Linked DNA regions of Homo sapiens: region 1 is linked to region 2. The links come from fine-mapping of genetic effects on gene expression. Tissue or cell type: whole blood. Region 2 holds a variant in brackets; the other region holds the start of a gene. All regions are shown on one strand. Distances are from middle to middle.

Region 1 (8,089 bases), 460 kb before region 2:
TATGAATCTAGTGGGTGTGTGTTGTTGTTTTTTGTTTCCCCATATAGCTATCTTGTTGTCCCAATATCATTTATTAAATAATCCCCATTTTCCATCTTCCTTTAATACAGCTCTGATGTGATCTCTGTATATTTAAAAAAAAATCACTTCTTACCTGTAGTAAGATACATAAAATAACTAAAAAAAGTCCTTGATATTTTCAGATTCAATAACTACTTTATTTACTTAATTCCCACTTAAAAATATTGCTGAAAAGAGAATAAGGAAACTTTTAAAAATTTAATATGGGAAAAAAATCCAAGTCGGTATTTTACGTCTTTAATCTTCAGCTAGTTCTTTAACTTCCGTAAGCCCCAGTTCCTTGACTTTTAAAATGGAGATAATAAGCCGGGAGCAGTGGCTCACGCCTGTAATCCCAGCATTTTGGGAGGCTGAGGCGGGCGGATCATCTGAGGTTGGGAGTTCGAGACCAGCCTGACCAACATGGAAAAACCCTGTCTCTACTAAAAATACAAAATTAGCTGGGCATGGTGGCACATGCCTGTAATCCCAGCTGCTCAGGAGGCTGAGGCAGGAAAATCGCTTAAACCCGGGGGTCAGAGGTTGCGGTGATCTGAGATCGCGCCATTGCACTCCAGCCTGGGCAACAAGATCGAAACTGTCTCAAAAAAAAAAAAAAAAAAAAAAAGAGATAATAATAATACACTTCATGGGGAGAAAAAGTGGGCTAAAGAATGTAACATGTTTCTTAGGGCACTGGGAACATAAGCTTTCAATCAATAGTTTAATAGTTGTTCTTAACGATGAAGATTATTTTACTGCATTATCAGCTTCTCAGATCCTTGGAAGGAGGTCCAGTACTCTCCGGCTTTATGGCTGGACCACAATTCTTTCGTGGGACTGTTACAGTTAAATGGGTTTAGTTTGCTAATTTTGTGGTCTGATACCATATATTATGCTTTGTAACTATGTGGCATTTCTGGACTTCTAAATTTACATTTTTATGGATAAATGAAAGTGACGGCCAATCCCTAATACCATAGTAAATGTTATTTCCTAACGTGGAGAGCCTCTCTCCTCCCTGCTGGATGGCAGTGCATTGTCCATTTGTCTACCACAGAGCTGAATCTTTATTAGAAATAATGCTCCTGTAAGTTTCGAGACCAGCCTGGGCAACATAGTGAACCTCCATCTCTACTAAAATTACAAAAGTTAGTTGGGTGTGGCGGCACACACCTGTAATTTCAGCTACTCAGGAGGCTGAGGCAGGAGAATCGCTTCAACCGAGGAGGTGGAGGTTGCAGTGAGCTGAGATCGTGCCACTGCACTCCAGCCTGGGCAACAGAGCGAGACTCTGTCTCAAAAAAAAAAAAAAGAAAAAAAAGAAAGAATGCTCCTGTAGATAGAGATTTTGATGGAAAGTGAAGCCATCTAACTGATATACTTTATCCCTCATCATTTCCAAACAGGAAGTCAGATAGTCCTATCCATATCTAGAATGTTGGAAGCAGTTTATTGAATTTATTAGGTTTTAAAATTCAGTTCTCACATTATCAGATATATAAAGAGATATTAACTAGTTTCCCCATTTCATAACTCCAGCAAAGAGGATTTTTCTTGCTGAAAGTTACTCAGAAATGTGATGGCAAGGATCTATGGCTTTTTTTTTTTTTTTTAAGATCTCTTGGGTCATGGTCCAATAGTATCTGTTAGTCCAAATTATTCTTTAAAGAATAATTGAATGTGGGCCGGGTGCGGTGGCTCACGCCTGTAATTCCAGCACTTTGGGAGGCTGAGGCGGGCGGATCACCTGAGGTCAGGAGTTCGAGACCAGCCTGACCAACATGGAGAAACCCCATCTCTACTAAAAATACAAAATTAGCTGGGTGTGGTGGCGCATGCCTGTAATCTCAGCTACTCGGGAAGCTGAGGCAGGAGAATCGCTTGAACTGAGGAGGCGGAGGTGGCGGTGAGCCGAGATCGCGCCATTGCACTCCAGCCTGGGCAACAAGAGTGAAACTCCCTCTCAGAAAAAAAAAAAAAATGAATAATTCAATGTGGAAATTATAATCTGAATAGATTTTCCAAGGAGAAAATTATCACTTCTTTTGAAACAGATGAGTGAATTATTTTGTGCTACGTTTTCTACCCCTTATTTTATACGGACCTTAACTCCTTCGGGAAGAGTGTATGGTATAAGGACACCAATAAGCATTTACAGAATATTAACAAACCAACAATAGGTTGATGATTCACCCTGGATTCGTGCCAGGCTCTGTGAAAGAACTCAATAAACATGATGTGCATTTCAAAAACTGCTAATCATAATTGAAATTTCCAAACCCCTCAATCCCATAAATTATATGAACTAGAATATGATCATTTGGCCTGCCCCTACTCCCTTTACAGCATGATAGACCCTGTGATTATCAGGCTTTCGGGAAGTGGGACACAATACTTCATTCTTCAAAGAAAAAGAGGTGATGTTTGGTCTTTTCCTCTTTTTAGATTTTTTTTCACACGTACCTTATAGAGTTGTACACTGCTCTTTCTAAAATCCCTTCTGTACCTGTACAGTCTCTCCTTTATGCCTTCATGACACTTTTTATTCTTTTCAAATAAGCAGTGCGACTTATCACTTTTATTTTTCTTTCTGTAATTCATCTTTTGTCATGTACACTATTTGAAAAATATTACAAGCCGCTCATCAGAATTTCGAAAGAGTCCATATGAGAATGGTTTACACCCACTCTGTAGCCCGCAGCAACATGGATCCGCGTCCTAATGACTGAAAAGGCCAATTAAGACCCGGGTAACAGCAAGATCAACCGGACTTCCCCCCACCCCACCCGGGACCTGCCCGCGCCGCCAGCCCGGCCCAGCCCGGGGGGCGCGGGGGGCGGTACTGGAGCGCGGCGGGCGGCGGAGGAGGGCCGGCCTCGCACTCTCACAAAGACGCGCCCGCGGCGGGAGCCCAGCCCACCGCCTCTGGCCGCCGCCTGCAGCGCGAGCCCTCGAGCCCCGGGCCGCGGCGTTGTCAAGGCTCGGCCTCTCTCCGCCTTCTTCTCTGCTCATTTTATTAAAAAGATTAAAAAAAAAAAAAAAAAAAAAAAAAAAAGGAAAAAGAGATCCCGCCTCCTCCGCCTCCCATTGGCCGGGCCCCCGGCCGCGTCACACCGCGCTGTACCAATGGAGGGGCGCGATACTGCGAGGTGGGCCGGGCCCGAGCGGGGAGTGGGCGGCGGGTCGGTGCAGCAGCTCCGCCGCGGCTCCGCCACCATCGCGGAGGTGCCGCTGTTCCCACAGACGCTCGCGAGCAACCCTCCGCGCTCCGGAGCCTCCTCAGCCTCCCGCACACCCCGAGACGCTCGCCCCGCTGGGCCTCGGTCCCCGCCTCCTCCCCCGTCCTTTTCCCCTCTCTCGCTCCCCACATTGTCTCTGCCTCATTTTCTCTCCTAGTTGAGGATTAAAAAAAAAAAAAAATCACCATCATCCTCAGGGAGCCCCCTCGCCCTCGGAAAACAAAACCAGACATGATCCTGGGCTCCTGCTTCTGAAAGATCTGCCCGACCGAGGAGGAGGGAGCCTAGGTTCAAGTCGCAGGAAAGGTCACGGCAGGGAAGCCCCCTCAGCCCCTCCGCGTCGCCTCCCCGCGGGCCGCCCCTCTCGGCCCTGCGCCCCGCGGCCCCGCAGCCTCCGCGCGGCCTCCCGCCCCATCCCCGCCACTTTCCCCGGAGCTGGGCCGCGAACACCTCACTATTGATGGTGTAGCGCTTTAGGGGAAGGTAAGTGTCCAACTTGCCCGCGCCGGGTCGTGTGCTTTCTTTTTTGGCCCCTCGTCCTGGTGGTCAGAGAGGGTCGGCCGTGAAAGCAGTCACTCGCCCGGGGGGAGGCAGGAAGAAAAGGCTGGGGTCGAAGCCGAAGTCGAGGGGAGTCGGGCGAGGGCAGGGCACTTCTTTGGTCCTGTCCGGGCCAGGTGACCGTTCCTGCGTGCCTTCTGACCCCTGCTCTCTCTTGGCCTCTTATTCATGCTCTTGTTCTACTTGTTTGAGGTTAAACTATTTCATGTGACTACATTATTGGCTGAAACTGGAAGGGAAGGAAGTCAAGGACTGAAACTGTAAATTTCTTGAATGTTTGTGGATTTCGGGGTGCTGGGGGGAGGACTTTATTATTAAAGTATCATTTTCTCATTGGGGGAAGATTTCCTCTTTGTGCTCCCAATCTCTAGTTCTCAGCTGTATGTGATTAGAAAATTATGAAACCCAAAGTCACTTGCAGCAGAATAGAATTCTTACTATCCTGTTTTAGTTCTGCTCTCTGAAGGAGGGTGGCTTCTATTTATTACTAATTTTTAAGATGATGGAAAGATTCGTAGTTTTACATACACGTGTGTATGTGTGTCTGCTAGGAGGGGGGAAAAGTGTTGCAGGCTTCCTTTGAAACTGGTTGCTTGAGAAGTTGTTGAAAGGAAAACAGAATGATTCATTGTTGAATTGTCATTTTCCTCTGTCTCTTTTCCAAGGTTTGCTTACAATTTTTCTGGATTACAGACTTCAAACATTGATTTAAGTAAAATGGGTCCTTGAGAAACTGGGTGCTTTAAATGTTTCAGTATCTGTTGCTTTTTTAAGGTACATTTAGAAAGTAGTTTTGTATGAATCGTGAAATAGCCTTCTTCACAGCGAATTTTTAAACGCAAAAAAAGATAACTAGTAAGAGGGTGAACTTGGTGAATTACAAAATAGACATTTTAATATAGCAGGAATTGATGCATCTAAGATTTGAAACAGTTTTCATAATTGCTTTCCATTTAAAGAGAGACCTTTTTGTCTAGTGTACACTGGTCTTTTTAGTCTCAGTCTGTTGGGGGAGGGGAGAGAAGCTGGATCTGTACAATAATAAAATCATCTTTGGGTTGATATTTTGTTCCATGGATTTGCTTGCTGAGTTAATACTACTGTAAATTATCAACCAGTTTTGATTTTGATGGCCTGGGATGGGTGGAAAGCTGGCTTCCAGCTCTCCCTGTTGTTGTTGAGGTCGAAGGGAAAAGAGGCAGAGGCAGACAGACACACATATACACACACACACACACACATACACACACACACAATACCAAGCTGAGGGCTCATTGTTCTTCCATACACACATTCATTCTCTCTCTCCCATATTTGGGACTAGGTTTGCACAGACAAACACAGCTCTTTTTGGGAGAGAAGAGAGAAGATGGGGGAAGGGAGGGTGCTTTTCTGTTACAGCTTTCTTCCACCCATCTCATGCCTGGCCGTTTTTGCAACCTTGTGAGGCAGAAGAGTGCATTGGAAACTAAAGGACACTCAAAAACATGTTCAGAGACTTCTCTTCTCTCTGCCTCCCTTTATTCCTTTTGCAGCCGTGGTTTCTGCTGCTCTTTCTTTTTTGTATATGTAAAGATAAAATCCCTCTTTATATGTTGTGGCCTTACGTTCAGCTCTCATTGCTTTTGTATTTCTCATTGACCCTGATTTTGTTGGGGACAGTGATTTGTTCACTTGAGTCTTAGTAGTGAATGTGAGCAGAGTCTTTCTAGATAGAAATAGATTTTATTGATTAATATTATAAAGGTTGTATTGAGGTTAATATTTAGCAAGATGATGTTTGCATGTTTTTAGTGGTGTGATGGTTTGATGGTCAGGTTTGCTGGCAATTGAGCTGTCAATGTTGTTTTTGTAAATAAGGGTTATAAGAAAAGATCTGGTTTTCTGTTTAGGGGGCTCCTTTGAATACTGGACAGGGAATAGGCTAGTCCACCTGGGATAAACCCAGCTGTGGCCCAAGGATGGAGGTTGGTGTGAATACATGTGGGTTGCAGAATAGCACCTTCTACTGGTTAATTGTTTGGAAAGATCCAGACGAAGAGGATGGGGGAGGGGATTAATGGCTGAGGCTTAATGATTTTCTTTTAAGCGCAGTTGTTGTGCCTTTCTGCAAATGCCACTTCCCCGAGCTGCTAATACAGATGTCCTTTGACAGGCACGGTTGCATTGAGGCATTATTATGTTACTGGTTGTGCTTCGACATTAATTTGTTCTGTTACCAGAAGTATTTACACTTTGTGACTTCCCAGGACTCCTTTGAATGATACCTTCTCATCTTTTATGAGATAATTTCTCTTGAAATATTAAACCAGAGGGTTTATTTCTGTTCCCAGTATTGGAAACTATATACACCAGCAGTCTTTTAAAAAAGTTTTTAGTATCATTAATAAAAAATCAAATAAACCTACTCTATGGAAAGTAAAATTGTAGCACTGGACAGAGGTTTTTCTTGGGATTTAAACCAGGTAGAGGGGTAGAGGAGGAGTTGAAGGAGGGAAATCTCACTAAAATCGGCAATTTTGCAAATGTAGTGGCCTTGCATTGCAGTAGTGTTGTTTTCAGTAGTCTTATAAAGTCTGATAGGGTGACTTATTGTATGGATTAGATAAAGAATTTAAAATTGGAAGCCAGAGAAAATGTGAAATGAGTGTGTACACAAATTATCATAGAAGAGGGTCAAATTGTTGCCCAAAGGCTTGTAAACTAAGGTGCAGTTTCAGAGATAATCTGCTTAATAAATGTCTCAAAGGATTTTTATTTTCACAAATCCTGGCCCATCTCAGTTGTTCTAATGTAATGAACTATTAGAGAGGTTTGCAGTGGTAAAGGGGACTGGGTGTGTAGGATAAACATCTGTTCCAGACTGACTGCTTCTAGGAATGTGACTTCTGATTCACTTTACTTTCAAAACTTCAAGAGTAATCTCTAAAGTTGTGTATCTTTTACAATGAAATGTGAACAGTTCAAATGTATTATTTTCTCAGTGGGAATGGATTCAGGGGATTTCAGTTCAATATATTCTCCATCAGTGTTTTGTCACAAGGAAACTAGAACTGAGAACCAATTCACAACAAAAAGGTAATCCAAATCAAGAAATAAAATGTACCAGTTACCTTTTCAACTTTGATTTACTGGTCAGTCGAAAAAGCTTTTAAAAAATAGGACAGTAAGGCCTAGTGCGGTGGCTCACGCCTGTAATCCCAGCACTTTGGGAGGCCAAGGCGAGTGGACCACTTGAGGTCAGGAGTTCGAGACCAGCCTGGCCAACATGGTGAAACCTCGTCTCTACTAAAAATACAAAAATTAGCCTGGCACTTTGGCGCGTGGCTGTAATCCCAGCTACTTGGGGGGCTGAGGCACGATAATTGCTTGAACTCAGAGGCAGAGGTTGCAGGGAGCTGAGATTGGCACCACTGTACTCCATCCTGGGTGACACAGCGAGACTCTGTCTAAAAAAAAAAAAAAAAAAAGGAAAAAATAGGATAGTAAACACTGTCAGGTCCTGCAATAATTATGTGTAATACTGAACAGATACTGAACAGAAATGTTCCAGGTGCTGTAAAAACACACATATAAGAATATAATCTGTGCCCTTCTAAAAACCTGTATATGCTGAATATTATCATGGATTTAGTAAGCATTCATTACTTAAAAATTAGTTTCAAATATCAGTGATCAAAAAAAATTTAAGTAGTAAAATAAGTTGGACATACCAAGTTCTTTTGAGAGTAGTATGCTTTCCTACTAAGCTACTTTTGGCAGCTACTTTTGCAGTCGATTTAAAGGTTAAGATAGCAGAAAATTCAAATGTTTAAGTGAGTCATTAGTGTAACCTAGCTGTGAACTTCGTTACACACACATACACACATCCTGAAAGAAAAGCTATTGTTTTACATAATCAGTTTCTGATAATGCTGTGCTCTAGTTAATTACGGGATTTCTTTTTTTACTACCAGGAATTCCTCTTGAATGATATTTAAGTGATTGTTGAATCATATTTGTGTGATTGGTATCCTGATAATTATTCTGAAGTTGAAGCTCTCCTTGTCCTATTTAAGTGTGATTTTGCCGAGCCTTTTGGCTTATGTTTGGTTTCTTGTCTAACAGAGTTATAGTTTGTGTGTGTGTGTGTTTTTTTTTTAAATAATGGAGGAGAAATGAGCATTTTAAATATGTGTTAGAACATTGTTAAGATTGCATAGGCCAATTTAATGAACATTTGAACACAA
Region 2 (8,103 bases):
GCCACCGTTTATGTTCAAACCCGTCAAGGAAGAGGATGATGGGCTCAGTGGGAAGCATAGCATGAGGACACGGCGGAGTCGGGGCTCGGTGAGTCCCCTGGGGCCATGGGGCTCCTGGCAACTTCTTCAGTTTCCTGGGATGTGTGGGGGCTTGAGCCTCCCAGGGGGAGGAAGCGAAAGTCTTGTTTACCAGACAAAGTCCTGGAGGGGAGCTGCTTTGCCCGAGGCGGTAGCTTGCCTGTGGGCTGGGAAGAGTTCTCTGTTCTCTCCTTCGAGGGGCCCCAGGGTGGCATCCTGCTCTGGGTTTTGTAGCAAGCTCTTAGCTTCTGGCTCAGTGCAGGCTCTCCAAGGCCCCTCTTGCTCTCCAAGGCTGCTGCTTGTGGTGTCACTTCCATTGTATCAAATCTCTGCTATTTTAAACTTGCAGGCTCTTTTGTGTTAGTGTGTTTGTGATTTTTTTTAAATGTTTGATCCCGTTTTGGAAACTTCCGATACATTTTTCTGCTCACTGCATAGCTCCTCCCATAAAGAGACTTTGTTTCCTAGGTTGGAAATGTGCCAGGGACTTTGGGAGAGGCTTTTTCCAGGTTTGGGGCTGAGGGTACTGACAGGGTCTTTCCCTTCAGCCTCCCTTATGGCCCCTTCTGGCAGGTGGGTGGGACCATCCACTTTCCTCTGCCCCTTGTATGCCGTTGAGGCTGCTGGCAGCCCGGCCCCCGCTCACTCAGAAGGGAGCAGGTCAACCAGCCAGAACCATTGTCTCCTGATCTCTTCTGAGCCCTCATGGCTTTGCAGAAACATGCTGAAGCGCTTGGCGGCTTGGGGAGCTGAGCTGCTTTACTTGACAGCTTCATCTCTTTGGGTCACTTCCTGTCCTGTCAGATTAAATCCACAAGTGTTTGATTTCATTTGGTTTGGTTGGGAGAATGGACGGTTATGAGGAATAAACAGAAAGGGTGTAGGGTGCTTTAAAGATGGCCCCAGGCGACTTTCTGCCGCTCAGAAAGTGTGGTTCATTTCCAGCACACGTTGTTCAGGACAGTCCCTTGGGATGAGTGCTTTAGGTTTGAGAACCGCCCTCTGGCGTGAGCCCACTGATTTCCCCACCTCTTCCCTGAGCTCCACACCGACCTTCATGCAGCCAGGGACAGGCAGGGCGGCCTGTTGTTTGCCAAGGTCTGGGATTTGCTGAGAGGCTGATAGGGTGTGCCTTCAGGCTTCTGCCTGTGGGTTGGGCTCAGGTGGGTCCACATGGGGACTGGGAATCTGGTGTCACCAGTCTTCGGTTTGGGTGGGCAGATGTCGACACTACGCAGTGGTCGGAAGAAGCAGCCAGCCAGCCCTGATGGTCGCACCTCACCCATCAATGAAGACATCCGCTCCAGCGGCCGGAACTCCCCCAGCGCTGCCAGTACCTCCAGCAATGACAGTAAAGCAGAGACAGTGAAGAAGTCGGCCAAGGTCAGGTGCTGGGGGGATAGTAGGGCCTACTCTGTCCCTCCCTCACATTAAAACTGGTTTGCTGGTATTCGTGATCAGCTCCCTCAGACACGAGGATGCAGCTCATTCATGGAGCCTGTCTGGACACCAGCATTGTCCTGGCCTAGGGGCTGCAGACCGAAGGCTGGGGGCCTAGAGAAGGGGGCTCGAGCACCAACTCTTGGGGGCCACCTCTGCCTCAAGCTTCCCAAGTTCTCAGAAAGTGTGGGGAGTGGTTAGAACGGCTCCCTCCAGAGCCAAGTACAGTCCTCCCTTGGTATCCATTAGAGATTGGCTCCAGAGCCTCCACCGCCCAGGATACCAAAATCCACAGGTGCTCAAATCTCATATACATCGACACATGGTTTGCATGTGACCAGTCACATCCTCCTGTAGACTCTAAATCATCCCTAGGTTACTTCTACTGCCCAGTGCAATGTAAATGCAGTTTAAACAGTGGTTCCACTGTCTAGTTCAGGAGATAATGACAAGAAAACATTGTGTGCACGTTCAGTATAGATGTAACCATCACAGTCCTGCCTACATTTTCAGTCCATGGTTGCTTGAATCTGAGGATGCAAACCCACAGGTGCAGAGGGCTGGCTCTCATTCCCACCCCCAGATACGTGTTCCTTCTTGGCCCCAGTTGACCCTTCTAGAGCTTTTTGCTCCTGGAGATGGAACTCAGAATGAGGGAGCAAAGTGTCTGCAAACCGTCATTTCCTTGCTGAGGCTGATGGGATGGTCTCCCTTGGCCTGATTGCTCCTTGTGGGCTTTTCCCCTGCAGAAGGTGAAGGAGGAAGCCTCTTCCCCTCTTAAGAGTAACAAACGCCAGCGGGAGAAGGTGGCCTCTGATACGGAGGAGGCTGACAGGACCAGCTCCAAGAAGACAAAAACGCAGGTGAGGTTTGCTGCTGAGCCTTGCTGAGTAAAGCTAATGCTTCTTCAGAAGCCCCCAGCCGGGGTTCTCCCTAGTTGGTGGCCGTGCCCTGTCTCCTAGGGTGGGGCTGGAGTGGCCTTTGACACTGGCTGGGTCAGGGCACGACCTGTGGTCCCGGAGCCAAGCTTGCTGCTTCATCTGCACAAACATTACTGTGTGTCCGGCACTGGTGGTGCAGAGCAGACAGGGCTCTGCCCTCCTGGGACTTCCATCCTTCCCTTCTCTGACTCCAGGAGATCAGCAGGCCCAACTCGCCATCTGAAGGTGAGGGAGAGAGTTCAGACAGTCGCAGCGTCAACGATGAGGGTAGCAGTGACCCCAAAGACATCGACCAGGACAATCGCAGCACGTCCCCGAGCATCCCCAGCCCCCAGGACAATGAGAGTGACTCGGACTCGTCAGCCCAGCAGCAGATGCTGCAGGCCCAGCCCCCAGCCTTGCAGGCTCCCACTGGGGTCACCCCAGCTCCCTCCTCAGCTCCTCCAGGGACCCCTCAGCTGCCCACGCCAGGGCCCACGCCCTCTGCCACTGCAGTTCCCCCACAGGGCTCCCCCACGGCCTCCCAGGCCCCTAACCAGCCACAGGCTCCCACAGCGCCTGTTCCCCACACCCACATCCAACAGGCACCGGCCTTGCACCCCCAGCGGCCGCCCTCACCGCATCCCCCGCCGCATCCCTCGCCACATCCCCC[G/A]CTGCAGCCTCTGACTGGGTCGGCGGGCCAGCCTTCTGCACCCTCTCATGCCCAGCCCCCACTGCACGGTCAGGGCCCACCCGGCCCTCACAGCCTGCAGGCTGGGCCCCTGCTGCAGCACCCAGGCCCCCCACAGCCCTTTGGCCTCCCTCCCCAGGCCTCCCAAGGCCAGGCCCCTCTGGGGACCTCCCCAGCAGCAGCGTACCCTCACACCTCCCTGCAGCTGCCAGCCTCTCAGTCAGCGCTGCAGTCCCAACAGCCTCCACGGGAGCAGCCCCTGCCACCAGCGCCCTTGGCCATGCCCCACATCAAGCCCCCGCCTACCACTCCCATCCCCCAGCTGCCGGCGCCACAGGCCCACAAGCACCCTCCCCACCTCTCGGGGCCCTCACCCTTCTCCATGAATGCCAACCTGCCTCCCCCTCCAGCCCTGAAGCCCCTGAGCTCCCTGTCCACACATCACCCCCCGTCGGCTCACCCCCCACCCCTGCAACTCATGCCTCAGAGCCAGCCATTGCCCTCCTCGCCCGCCCAGCCCCCCGGGCTGACCCAGAGCCAGAACCTGCCCCCGCCCCCTGCCTCCCACCCCCCTACAGGCCTCCACCAGGTGGCCCCCCAACCCCCGTTTGCTCAGCACCCCTTTGTCCCTGGAGGCCCTCCTCCCATCACCCCTCCGACCTGCCCCTCCACCTCTACCCCACCGGCGGGACCTGGCACCTCGGCCCAGCCACCCTGCTCTGGTGCGGCGGCTTCAGGAGGCAGCATAGCGGGGGGGTCGTCCTGCCCACTCCCCACCGTCCAGATCAAGGAGGAGGCTCTGGACGACGCTGAGGAGCCTGAGAGCCCCCCTCCCCCACCAAGGAGCCCGTCCCCGGAGCCCACTGTGGTGGACACCCCCAGTCACGCCAGCCAGTCAGCTAGGTACGCTTCCTAGGGCTCCAGGACGGGTCAGGCACAGGTGGGCTGGTGGGGGCAAGTTCTGGTGGGAGGGAGGGCCGGGGTGGGTCTCGGCAGGAGCTCCCAGCAAGATCTGTGGCTTTTCTCAGGTTCTACAAACACCTGGACCGGGGCTACAACTCGTGTGCCCGGACAGACCTGTACTTCATGCCTCTGGCCGGGTCCAAGCTGGCCAAGAAGAGGGAGGAGGCCATTGAGAAGGCCAAGCGCGAGGCTGAGCAGAAAGCCCGAGAGGAGCGAGAGCGGGAGAAGGAGAAGGAGAAGGAGCGGGAGCGGGAGCGAGAGCGGGAGCGCGAGGCAGAGCGGGCGGCTGTGAGTCCAGGGTTGGCGAGGTGTGACGGGGGGCGCTGGTCCATCCTGCGCCTGGGAGCCACGCTGGGCCACCGAGCTCTGCCCTTGGCTGCCTGACTCGGCCTCCTGGCAGCTAGAGGGTTGGGTGCTATTTACACCCTGTCTCCACACCTCTGACGGGTGCTGCACATCCGAAGCTGCCGGGGTAACTGCGCATGGCAGGTCTAGGCTGACTCCCAGCAGTGACTGTGCGTCCTCCTACCGGAGGGCCTTCGAGGAAAGGGCCTGTCCTTCTCCTGCAGCCTTTGGGTTCATAACTTCTAAGTAATTTGAAGGAGTCGGGGAGAAGCACAAGGGGGCGCCTTGAGAGAAGACCTGAGCACTCAGGCGATAAGCAGGCTGCGAGGGGCCTCTCCAGCTGCCCTGCCTTTGTGGCCCCCTCGTGGGCTGGGTGCTGTGGTGGTGGCCAGCTCTCTGCTGTCGCGGGGAGGAAAGGGCAGCCAACCCAGGAAGTGGCATGAGGGACTGCCAGTGAGGTTCCTGGCCTGCTGGGCTCACTCACCCATGCCCCCCAGCTGTCACTCCCAGACACAACCCTCACACGTAGACAACCCATGCATGAGCTTAGTCTCACAGGGACACATTCCCATCTGGGCCTGAGGGGAGCTGCGGGCACAGGTGAGCCCGACCCTGTGGGGCCTGGACTGCATCCTGGTGTCAGGCCAAGGCAGGGCCGGGTCTCCGTGGAGGGACCAGGTTGGCCTGTCAGAGCAGGCCAGGAGCAGGACCAGGCCCACCTCCGCAGTGTGGACCAAGCGGAGACCCCAGGCGCTCGGGGGACCCCTCACGCTTTCTTTTCCTTCTGCAGAAGGCGTCCAGCTCAGCGCATGAAGGTCGCCTCAGTGACCCACAGCTCAGTGGTCCTGGCCACATGCGGCCATCCTTCGAGCCACCACCAACCACCATTGCTGCTGTGCCCCCCTACATCGGGCCCGACACACCTGCCCTTCGGACTCTGAGCGAGTACGCCCGGCCCCACGTCATGTCGCCCACCAACCGCAACCACCCCTTCTACATGCCCCTTAACCCCACGGACCCCCTGCTGGCCTACCACATGCCTGGCCTCTACAACGTCGACCCCACCATCCGCGAGCGGGAGCTCCGGGAGCGGGAGATCCGAGAGCGGGAGATCCGAGAGCGGGAGCTGCGGGAGAGGATGAAGCCGGGCTTCGAGGTGAAGCCCCCAGAGCTGGACCCCCTGCACCCAGCCGCCAACCCCATGGAGCACTTTGCCCGGCACAGCGCCCTCACCATCCCCCCGACCGCCGGGCCCCACCCTTTTGCTTCTTTCCACCCGGGCCTGAACCCCTTGGAGAGGGAGAGACTGGCCCTGGCGGGCCCCCAGCTGCGGCCCGAGATGAGCTACCCTGACAGACTGGCAGCCGAGCGTATCCACGCAGAGCGCATGGCATCGCTGACCAGCGATCCCCTGGCCCGACTGCAGATGTTCAACGTGACTCCGCACCATCACCAGCACTCTCACATTCACTCCCACCTCCACCTCCACCAGCAGGACCCCCTCCACCAAGGTGCGTGCCCCAGCGTGGCAGGTGGGACAGAGGCACGGGGAGGGGTGCAGAGCCTGATGAGTGACAGTCACCATCCAGGAGCGGAAACTGTTCTTTTCTGAACAGATCCCTCATCCCTGGCAGATCTTAGAAGAGCTCAGCATCCACTACCGTCATGGTTTTGCTGTATCGCAGTCTCTCCTCGGCCCCGCAGCTCTCCAGAACTGCAAGGCCTCAGACAGCTGCAGCACACGGGTGAAGCCTGGGTTCTTGGCCCTGTGCCTGGGATGGAGGGAAGTGGCCTAGGCCCACAGGGCAGGGTAAGGGCAGCAGAGCAGTGTCATGTGGCCTTTGGAGCCAAGGAACGTACAGATAAGGCACTGGGCTACTCAAGGGTGGCTGAGGGAGAATGAAAAGCACAGTCCTCTTCCCTTGAGGAGCGAGGCTGGGCAGGCCTCCTGCTGGCTTTGGCTGAGTTTTCCGAGCTGACCCACCTGGCCAGGGCTGCTCAGTCCTGTCCACCCTGGAAGTAGGAGCTCCTTAAGGCCACTCATTGACCAGCTGTGGAGAGGCTGCTCTGAGGCAGAGGCAGGCCCAGCTGGCATCCTCACTCCCTCTGCAGCCTGGTGAGATGGCGCAGGGGGTGGCTACTGTGCTTACGAGGAGGCAGGTTCACCTGCTCCATGGGACTTGGAGTACAGGTCCTGTGGGACAGCCTACGTGCAGGGCTTCCTCACTGGCCACCCTCCAGTGTGGGGCAGGATGACTGATAGAGCAGGGCCCAGAGGGAGGGCGGGGAGCCACCTTGCTTGGAGGCACCAGGCGCCTCCCCTGCCCCTGTACCCAGTCCTGACATGGGAGAGCACTCACCATTGCCGTCCTCATATCTGAAGCTCTGTTGGCACCTGGTGTAGACCTTACAAGCCTCAGTATGAGCAGTGTTGAGGACAGGTAGTCATTTGTTCATTCATGCATCATTCATTCAGCAAGTGTTTACTGAACCCCTGGAATGTGCCAGGCACAGTTGTAGGTGCTGGCAGAACCCCTGTCCACATTTACCTTCCAGTTTGGGGAGATAGTTGAAAGACGTGTGCCACGTTGTGAGAGGCAGAAAGTATATGTTCTGGAAAAAAATAAATCCAGAAGAGGGGATCAGGAGAGCTGGGCGCAGGGGCAGTATGGCGGTTTCGAGAAGGCCGTCAGGAGAGGTCCGCTGAGGAGGTAGCAGAAACATGGAGGAGATGAAAGGGCAAGCTGTGGGAAATCGGGGCAAGAGCAGCCACAGAGGCAGAGCGGGGGCTCCCAATCTTCCAGGGACCCCAGGGCAGCATGGCTGGAGGTGGCAACCCTGAAATCCCTGCCAGCGCCTGTGTTGGCTGGAGCTGGGAGATAGGAGGTGAGGGCAGGAGGTGGTGCAGTGAGGTCAGATCAAGGCAACGTTCTGAAGGGAGAGACGCAAGATTTGTGCCAGCAGAGAGGAGAGGGCAGTGCTGTGCCAGGTCCCCATTCTGCGCCACCCACTCTGCTGGCCTCCTTTAGGTTCTGCGAGTGAAGAGCAGGGAGACAGCCCTGGGCAGGGGGTGCCAGCCCAACACCCACTGGCGCAAGGCTGTGTGTTCCTGTGACCTGACAGGCAGAGGGCAGGCCCAGGTGGCCGGCGAGAGGGACCCTGCTGATCCCGGGTCCTCGACAAAACTGGCCTGGGATTGCCTGTTAGGGGCACTCCACAAGCGGACGAGGGAGTGCCTGCATCAGCGGTGGGCTCGTCACTTCTCTCGGCCTCTGGAGCTCTTGCTGAAGGTGGAGGCAGCCACTTTGGGGCAGGGCCACCTGTAGCCAGGTGGTGCATCCAGCCCTGGTGACCAGGAGCCATCCTGGGTGAGGAGGAAGTCATCGGTCATTCCAGCCAAGGGGGACAAACATTGAAGAGCTGCACACCGCCTCCATCTGGCGTTTTGTCCTTTCCTTAGGTTCAGCAGGCCCCGTTCACCCGCTGGTCGACCCCCTGACTGCCGGTCCCCACCTGGCTCGCTTCCCCTACCCGCCTGGCACTCTCCCCAACCCTCTGCTTGGACAGCCCCCACACGAGCACGAGATGCTTCGCCACCCAGTTTTCGGTAAGACTTCCCCTCCAGGAGGGGCGGGGAGGCCGTGTGAGGGTTGGGTTGGGGTCTGG

Evidence for each region. PIP is the estimated chance that this variant, and not a neighbour inherited with it, causes the effect.
Region 1: it holds the start of RERE, and the variant in region 2 is fine-mapped to the expression of RERE in whole blood (INTERVAL, PIP 0.91).

What each region holds. Positions count from the first base shown.
Region 1 is chr1:8,812,856-8,820,944 of GRCh38, reverse strand. It overlaps RERE (arginine-glutamic acid dipeptide repeats), which reads left to right and starts at 3,305. Exons shown (of 23, transcript NM_001042681.2): 1 at 3,305-3,785. RefSeq lists silencers at 2,768-2,997, 3,098-3,397, 3,648-3,707, 6,601-6,895 and an enhancer at 3,061-3,355.
Region 2 is chr1:8,356,041-8,364,143 of GRCh38, reverse strand. RERE (arginine-glutamic acid dipeptide repeats) reads left to right here. Exons shown (of 23, transcript NM_001042681.2): 15 at 1-88; 16 at 1,300-1,461; 17 at 2,268-2,381; 18 at 2,654-4,032; 19 at 4,158-4,380; 20 at 5,228-5,948; 21 at 7,898-8,044. Among named protein-coding and RNA genes, the nearest start is that of SLC45A1, 42 kb to the right of the region's middle. RefSeq lists enhancers at 3,906-4,405, 4,406-4,907. The variant G/A (reference allele first, on the strand shown) is at 3,112.